Homo sapiens: one gene and its partner. The protein of the gene in region 1 purifies or fractionates together with the protein of each later gene. This does not show direct contact. Each region holds a gene or a part of one and is shown in the gene's direction. Other genes may lie near its edges.

Region 1 (5,530 bases):
AGAACTTTGGGAGGCTAAGGTGGGTGAATCACCTGAGGCCAGGAGTTCGAGACAAGCCTGGCCAACATGGTGAGACCTCATCTCTACCAAAAATACAAAAAATCAGCCTGGTGTGGTGGTGGGCACCTGTAGTCCCAGCTACTAGGGAGGCTGAGGCATGAGAATAGCTTGAACCCAGGAGGCAGGGGTTGCCGAGATCATGCCACTGCATTCTAGTCTGGGCAACAGAGAGACTCGTCTCATAAATTAAAAAAAAAAAAAAAAAGTTTTGGTGTTTTGGCCATATGCGGTGGCTGACACCTGTAATCCCAACACTTTGGGAGGCCTAGGCAGAAGGATCTTTTGAGGCCAGGAGTTCAAGACCAGCCTGGGCAACATAGTGAGATCCCCGTCTCTAAAAATAAAATAAAAAATAAAAGTTTTGATGTTTTGTTCATCATAAATGTTTTCATTAATTTTATGTTTTTAAAATATTATTTCTCTTGATGGCTGAGTTTTGTGGGGCCACCTTAAATTTTGCACAGGGGTGAGATCCTCACTCGCCTCACCCTAGAACCCGTTCTGCTGTGTGTACTGGGCACATTTTTTGTTGTTGTTTTGTTTTTGTTTTTGAGACAGAGTCTCGCTCTGTCGCCCAGTCTGGAGTGCAGCGGCGCTATCCCGGCTCACTGTAACCTCCGCCTCTTGGATTCAAGCGATTCTCCTGCCTCAGTCTTCTGAGTAGCTGGGATTACAGGCGCGCGTCACCACCCCCAAGTAATTTTTTTTTTGTTTTGTTTTGGTTTTTTTTGTTTAGTAGAGACAGGGTTTCACCATGTTGGCCAGGGTGATCTCGAACTCCTGACCTCAAGTGATCTGCCCACCTCGGCCTCCCAAAGTGCTGGGATACAGGCGTGAGCCACTGCGCCCGGCCAATGCGCTGGGCATATTGATTAACCTATCTTAGCCTCAGTTTCTTCATCTGCAAAATGGGGCTGAACGATGCTGCCTTACTTCTGAGAGGATTCATGCAAAATATTTACTTCTGCGCTCTGCTGGAGGGGCGGGGCCAGCTCGCCCAGTGGGGGCGGGGCCCTGTGGTCGGGCTCCCCGGGAGGGGCGGGGCCAGGCCGTGTCAGCTGACCGGCCTGGCCAATGGCACCTGGCGGCGGGGCCTGGCAGGCCGGGGCGGGGCCGGGGGCGGGCCTGGCGGCGCGGACTCCCGGGCCATGGACGAGTCGAGCCTCCTGCGGCGCCGCGGGCTCCAGGTGAGGCCCCTGCGCGGGCGGGCGGAAGGCAGAGGGCGCGGCCAAGTGGACGCGGCCTGAAAGGTGCCGGGAGGGGCGGGGCCTTCACGGGCTGTAGGGAAACTGAGGCAGAGGGTGGGGAACGCTCAGATCGCTTCTTTTTGACCACCCGCTTCTCAAAGTGCTTTTTCTCATGGTGGGAAGGGGGAAGGTGCCCCCTTGGACATCTAGGGAAACTGAGGCTCCAAGCGATGGCGTGGGAGGAAGAGGCTGAGGGCTCTGCCCCTCCCCACCAGCTGTTCTAATAATAATGCTAGCAACAGCAGCCAGAGAGCTCACCATATGTTCATGGTTGTTTTAGTCCTATTACTAGCGATGTATTAATATGAGTTCATATGTATTAATACCTCCTTGGGTCGTCGCTGCACCACTGTACACCCTCAGCTCAGCCCTACGACGACCTGGGGAGGTTGGGGCTGTCAGGCGCCCATTTGTCAGAATAAGGAAACTGAGGCTCTAGTCCCGGAAAGCCACTCTCCAGAGGTCGCCTAGCTGGGATTCGATCTGCGCCCTCAACCAGCTCTCTTACGGCACAAGGCGCTGCCAACCAGCAGTGTGACCTGGGGGGAGGGCACCCTTGCTTCTCTGGGCCTCAGTTTTCCAATGAGCCATAGGGTCCTCCTTTTACTGAGTTTATGTTTAGGAGGCTGTGTCATCAGGAGGTAGGGACACAGGCGTCGGGGACAGCAGAAGCCTAAGTTTGAAGCCACACAGGGACTACATGACCCCGGGCAGCCACCCTTTGACTTCTCTGGGCCTCAGTGTCCCCATTATAAGAAAAGAAAAACAGGAATTAAGATTTGGCCATTTTCCTCTGGGACTTAGACCACACCCTTAAGAAGCCACCAAGTTTTCAGGTAGGGAACCTGGGATTCAGCACTTACCCAACGAACATTTATGGAGCGCCTGCTGTGTGCCTGGCTCTGGAGAGGCAGCGGAGTGTTCTGCAACCTCTGGAGCTGCCCTCCTAGAAACCCCAACCTGTTGGGGGAGGTAGACGCCAGAGCAGCGGTGACCCCACGGAGTGATCAGTTGTGATAAGGGACTCACAGCAAGTGAAGGAGGCGCCTGACCCAGTCATTGCTGGGAGCCCTGGGGTAGAGGAGGCAGCCAAGGGTGGCGAGGCATTGCAGCGGGGGGCGGTATTTAGGGAAATGAAAGAGGTTGACAGAAGCTGGAACCTAGGGAGGACTGAGCAGGTGGGGTGGGGGTCGGGGACTGAGGTTAGCTCCGGGCGGGTTGAGGGGGTGAGAGGAATGGGGCCGGCGGGTCTCCAACCTGGAGCCGCACCGGTAGCTGCGGGACTGCGAACTCAGCAGGTGATGGGAAGCCAGGTCGGGAGTGGTCAGGGAAGGCACGGGCTGAGCTGCAGATCAGAGACACCCGGTCTCTGGCCGCGCGGGGGTGGGGCAGAACTGGAGGCGCTGAGGCCAGAGGCAAGAGTGGGGGACTTGGGCGGAAAGGAGGGGGCGGGGCGGGATTGGCGAGCAGCGTGGTGTTGGTGGGGGGGCAGTCCCGCCTCCAGCCCCAGTTAGATGCCAACCCGCCCGCAGCCTCTTAAAATAGAGAAACCGCCTCCGGGTAGGCGAATGGGGGTGCTGCTGACGTCAAGAAGTGGGGCCTGTTCCATGGTGGGGGGGTCAAACATTTCCTGATGGTAAGTTCTATGTTACAAAAGGGGAAACTGAGGTTCAGAGAAGCATAGCCACTGTCCGGGTTTCACAAAGTATAGGTGACAGAGTCAGACAGGATTTGAACCCACGCAGTTCCGGCTTCCTCTCCAAACCAACCCAGCACAGGCGTCCCTCCACGAAGGTGGAGGGATGAGCACGGATTCCCCGACTGAATGAGGGCATTCCGGGCAGAGGCCACAGCACGTGCAAAGGCCCAGAGGCATGTAGCCTTTCTTACCTGTTTATATGGGGAAACAAGAACTTGAACCTATTTCTTAGCACTAGAGGCTGATGGCCAGGACTTAATGCTTCCAGGGCCTTCAGTGCTGATTTTGAAGAGGTTAGACTTTCCCCCTAGGGTGATGGGGAGCTATGGAAGGTGCTGGAGCAGGAGAGGACATGCCCATATTGAGGGGCTGGGAAGACTCCTCTGGAGGGCTAGGAGCAGGAGTGGGGGAATCAAAAAGGGCAGGAAGCCAGGAAGGAGCATGGAATGAAAGTCTAAGTGTACCAGGTGTGGTGGCTCATGACTGTAGTCCCAGCTACTCAAGGAGGCTGAGGCAGAAGGATCTCTCTCTCTCTCTCTTTTTTTTTTTTTTGAGAAAGAATCATGCTCTGTTACCCAGGCTGGAGTCCAGTGGCGCAATCTCGGCTCACTGCAACCTCCACCTCCCGGGTTCAAGTAATTCTCCCTGCCTCAGCCTCCCGAGTAGCTGGGATTACAGGCACATGTCACCACGCCCGGCTAATTTTTGTATTTTTAGTAGAGACGGGGTTTCGCCATGTTGGCCAGGCTGGTATCAAACTCCTGATCTCAGGTGATCCGCCCACCTCGGCCTCCCAAAGTGCTAGAATTACAGGCGTGAGCCACCGCGCCCAGCCAAGAAGGATCTCTTGAGCCCAGGAGTTTGAGGCTATAGTGAGCCATGATCACGAGACCCTATCTCAAAAATAAAAATAAAGGTCCAAGTGGAAGAAGATTAAAATAATAATAAAATAATAGTAAAGTGGGAATAACCGTTCATATTAACAGGCTAAGCCCTCTCATGCATTCAATTCTCCCAACAGCCCGAGTGGTCAGTGCTATTATTAGTTCCACTTTTCAAAGGAAGAAACTGAGGCCCAAAGAGGGAAGTACCCACCAGGAAGCCAGAGAAATTCTAACCAATCTGGCACGTGAAGGTGTTGTCTTCATCAGCCCCAGTTTGGGGTCTCTTTTGACTGGAAACCTTGTTAATGGTCCAGGAGCACCCCAGCCAATCAGGGGGTAGATCGCTGATGCGAGCCAATCAGATTTCCTGGAGGCCAAAGGCCAAAGAGTCCATTCACAAACGGGTGCTGACCGGCCAATCCAGACGCATAGCCCAGGGCGTCCTCTCCGGTGGTGACAATGTGAGGCGTGCTGTTGGCTGTGTGCAGGAAAGGTCTGAAAAAGGATCCGGCCTGGCCCGCGGGCGGCCAGTTTGCGACAGCCCTGGGTCCAGGGAGGAGGTGGAGACCTTCCCAATTTGGGTTAAACTCAGCCTCACGCATAACGTGTGCAGGCACCGGGTAACGTGAGCTGTTATTACTACTACTACTATTATCTTATTACATTTATCATCTCCTACTTGGACCTTTGCTTTACACATGACCGAATTTCAAAACACCAGGTCCCACAAACAGAGCATCCCCCGGCAGAGAAGGGCTAGAGCCTGTATCTGGACTTTTGTCTCTGCCGCTACTGGGGTGGCTCCTCTAGGTTCAGCCCTCCAAGGTGATCCTGCTTTCTCATGGACAGCTTCCACTTATTTTCCTCCTCCTCCTCCTCCTCCTCCTTCTCCTTCTCCTCCTCCTCCTCCTCCTCCTGGAAGCCCTGGGGCTGGTGCCATGTGGTCCATGCTGACTTCTCTCCCATTTAATTCCAGGGGCATCGAACTTCCAACCGGGCTTGGTGCCCAGCAGGCTGAGTCTCACCTCCCTTTGCACGTGCTGTTTGCTGGGCATGGACTGGTGTTTTCCATGTGCCTGCAGGCTTTGTTTGACACCCCCTACTCCAGGAAGCCCCTTAGCTCTCCTCTCTGTGTGCCTCCAACCCCTCTTCTCCCTTTGAGTCTCTCTTTTTTTAGACAGGATCTTGCCCTGTCGCCCAGGCTGGAGTGCGGTGGCCCAGGCTGGAGTGCAGTGGCGCCATCTTGGCTCACTGCAGGCTCCGTCACCTGGATACAAGCGATTCTCACAGCCTCAGCCTCCTGAGTAGCTGGATTACAGGCGAGCGCCACCACACCCGACTAATATAATTTTTATATTTTTTAGTAGAGATGGTGTTTCACCATGTTGGCCAGAATGGCCTCAAACTCTTTTTTTTTTTTTTTTTTTTTTTGAGACGGAGTCTTGCTCTGTCGCCCAGGCTGGAGTGCAGTGGCGTGATCTCCGCTCATTCCACCTCCCAGGTTCATGCCATTCTCCTGCCTCAGCCTCCCGAGTAGCTGGGACTACAGGCTCCTGCCACCACACCCGGCTAATTTTTTGTATTTTTAGCAGAGACGGGCTTTCACCGTGTTAGCCAGGATGGTCTCCATCTGCTGACTT
Region 2 (3,500 bases), on another chromosome or scaffold:
TATTTGGGAACTGATCCCAGGAAGCACAAGAAAGGAAGTAGGGACAGTAAGGCGGAGATGGAGGCTCATAAAGGGTACATTGATGAACAGGTTGCTGCTCACGTGTAGGATATCAAAACTGAATTCTTTAAAAAATCTGAACTCCTGGTTTTTCTGTCAAACCCCATCTCTCCTAAGGATGCCCTTCCAGTTATTTTGGCAGAATACTTAACTCCACACCTTCTGTTTTCTCCTGCAGTCTGTCCACTAGAAATTCTAATGACTCTGCCTTTACCTCCGTTGCTACCACCCTGGTCCCAGCCACCATCCTCTCTCATCTGGGTCATTACAGTGGACTGCAAGCTGGCCCGCAGCTTCCCCCATAACCTACCCTCTGTTGTCTAATCTCAACAACAGAGCCAGAGCAATCCTTTGGAAATGTAATTCAGGTCTTTGTCATTCCTCTGCTCAGAATCTTCAATGGCTGTCCATTTCATCCATAGTAAAAAATAAAGTTCTTCTGGAGGTCTCCCAGCCCTAGACGGTCTTACTTCTTATTGCCTCTCAGATGTCATCTTACATGGCTCCCAGCACACACTGCTCCATCCCTCCTGTTGCCTTAGCTTCTCCCTTTGTTGTGATGTTCTTCCTCCATTTATCTCCATGGCTCATCCCTCGCCTCCTTCACACCTTCTTTGATCCCATTTTGATGAATGAATGACATGAGAAGTTTCTGGTATAGTTTGTAGTGTAGGTTCCTGTACAGTTAGGTGCTATATAAATGGTAGCGACTATTATTATCTTATTTAATTCCCACAATAGCATTATGTGGTAGCTGCTAGTATTATCCTTATTTTATGGCGAGGTAAACTGAGGCTCAAAGAGGTTGGTTAGCCTAGAACAGTGGCTCTCAAAATATTTTGACTGACCCACAGGAAGGAATACATTTTACATCTCAATCCAGTCCATGCTTGCTTATGTGGGTATGTACATATATATAATAGAAACAAAAGTTTCTCAAGCTCATAATTAGCCTTATGACATTTGATGCATTCTGATATTTTCTACTCTGTCCTAGTCATTTATTTTTTAATTGCTAGTTTTAAACCACCAAGTTGAGTTTAAGAACCCCTTTTGACAAAGACTATCCAAGCCTTTAAATCTGTACCTTTAATTCTGTGTTACAGCTTTTCCCTGTGGCAACATCTGAACTAGCTTTGTCAAAAATTATTAGTGCTAAAAACTCCTCAGTACCCAGCTGAGTCAATACGTGTAACATTATAAGCTTATGTCTTTTTCTGCTGATCTCTGTAAAAGATGGTAAGGGTTTCTTCATACAAATAGATGTAAAGAAAGTATAGTAGGATTAAGGAAAATTTAAATGACTAAGAGAAGAAAAAGGAAGGGAAATTATCAAGTAGTCACAAATAGAATAATTTTTTAAAAAAATAGAGGAATTAAAATTTACCATTTACTTTGAAAGGATGGTAGGCGGGAGTGGACAGAAACTTGGTACAGTCTGACCAAAGTAGTTGTTTGTGGACAGGCTAAAGGCATCATCTCTAGAAGCAAAGTCCTGTGTCTCAGTCGGTTAAATTGAGTCGCATCTTATCAGGGAGTCAGAAGGAATTGTATACCGTGTGTGGCCACTCCCAGGTTGACAGCCTAGGAGACTCTGGGCTCTTCCTGAAGAGCCTGGTGGCTGGGGTAACCAGCAAAGGCCAGAAGAGAACCTACAAATGAGCTGGGGTCAAGTTTGGTTCATCTACAGTTTGCCCGCTAGAGAAAGATAAAACCGTCACAGATAGTTACTTGGGATTCATGTAATCTTAAAAATAAATGTCTTAACAATATTTGAAAGAAAATATGGCATTATAAAATGAAAGGGATGAGCCAGCTGTGGTGGCTCACACCTGTAATCCCAGCACTTTGGGAGGCCGAGGCAGGCAGATCACGTGAGGTCAGGAGTTCGGGACCAGTCTGGCTAATATGGTGAAACCCCAACTATATAAAAATACAAAAATTAGCTGGGCGTGGTGGTGCACGCCTGTAATCCCAGCTACTCAGGAGGCTGAGGCAGGAGAATCGTTTGAACCCAGGAGGCAGAGGTTGCAGGGAGCCAAGACTGAGTCATTGCACTCCAGCCTGGGCAACAGAGCGAGACCCTGTCTAGAAAAAAAAAAAAAAAATGAAAAGGATGAGGTGTTAGAGGAACAGAAGCCTAAATAAAGGGTCAAATACACAGAGTCAGGCATTGTCTCTGCATGAAATGGCTTTGTCTGCATCGAGAGTATGGTGGGGTTAATCTGCCCACTTTCTTTGATACTGAATTAGATGCCTATTAATCCTGCAATTTCTGAAAGTTAAGTGCACATTTGTTGAGTTTTCTTTAGATGAACTCTTTGCAACAACCCTGCAAGAGGAGGGCACAGTTGTCATTCCTAACTCAGGTGAGGGATCTGCCACACCGAGAGGCTAACAGAAACACCCAAGGACAATCAGCCAGCCTGCAAGGAACTGGCATCTCAACCCAAGTGTCTGGCACCAGAGCTTGCACTCTACCACTAGGCCTCCTCTTCTCATGTTTAGATTTGAAGAGCATTTCAGTGAAATATCAGTTTAAACTCTTTAATTAAATTTAGAACTAGGCTAAAGTTTCCTTTGTGCTATTGTTGAAAATGTGATTTGGTAAGAAAATAGTATTCATGAGATTGCAAGGCAAATAGCATAAGAAAGAAAACAAACTTATTCTTCAACACTTCTAATCTTTTTTTTGTTTTTTTGTTTTTTTGTTTTTTTTTTTTTTGAGACAACGTCTTGCTCTGTCAACCAGGCTGGAGTGCAGTGGCGCAATCTTGGCTCACTACAACCTCCACTTCCCAGGCTTAAGTGATTGTCATGCTTCAGCCTCCTGAGTAGCTGGGATTACAGGCACATGCCACCACCCTCGGCTAATTTTTGTATTTTTAGTAGAGATGGAATTTCACCATGTTGGCCAGGCTTGTCTCGAACTCCTGACCTCAAGTGACCTGCCCGCTTTGGCCTCCCAAAGTGCTGGGATTACAAGCGTGAGCCACCGTGCCTGGCGTAAACACTTTCATTAGTAATTAGCAAATAATTTTTTGCTTTCCAAATTCTTTTCTATTTTTAAAGGTCTCTTGGCCAGGCTCAGTGGTTCATGCCTGTAATCCCAACACTTGGGGAGGCTGAAGCAGGAGGATCTCTTGAGCCCACGAGTTGGAGACCAGCCTGAGCAACATAGTGAGGCCCCATTTCTAAAAATAAAAAATAAAAAAAATTACCCAGGTGTAATTAGTCCATTTTCACAATGCTAATAAAGACATACCTGAGACTGGGTAACTAACAAAGAAAAAGAGGTTCAGTGGACTCACAGGTCCATGTGACTGGGGAGGCTGTGTAATTATGGCAGAAGGCAAGGAGTGCAGGGCACATCTCACATGGTGGCAGGGAAGAGAGAACTTGTGCAGGGGAACTCCTCGTTATGAAACCATCAGCTCTCC

What was found. Proteins that work in one complex are often made in the same cells at the same time.
Region 2: the proteins of MAST3 (region 1) and ZBTB21 purify together in Homo sapiens (affinity purification with mass spectrometry, with the first as the bait; one large-scale study listed by BioGRID). This does not show direct contact.

What each region holds. Positions count from the first base shown.
Region 1 is NC_000019.10:18,096,585-18,102,114, forward strand, and holds the start of MAST3 (microtubule-associated serine/threonine-protein kinase 3), read left to right. Parts: upstream 1-1,193; 5' UTR 1,194-1,208; coding exon 1,209-1,247; intron 1,248-2,170; coding exon of another isoform or gene 2,171-2,181; exon of another isoform or gene 2,182-2,343; intron 2,344-5,530. Other genes in the region: IL12RB1 (interleukin-12 receptor subunit beta-1), read right to left, coding at 2,171-2,181.
Region 2 is NC_000021.9:41,996,861-42,000,360, reverse strand, and holds part of ZBTB21 (zinc finger and BTB domain-containing protein 21), read left to right. Parts: intron 1-3,500. UniProt on the Homo sapiens protein: Acts as a transcription repressor.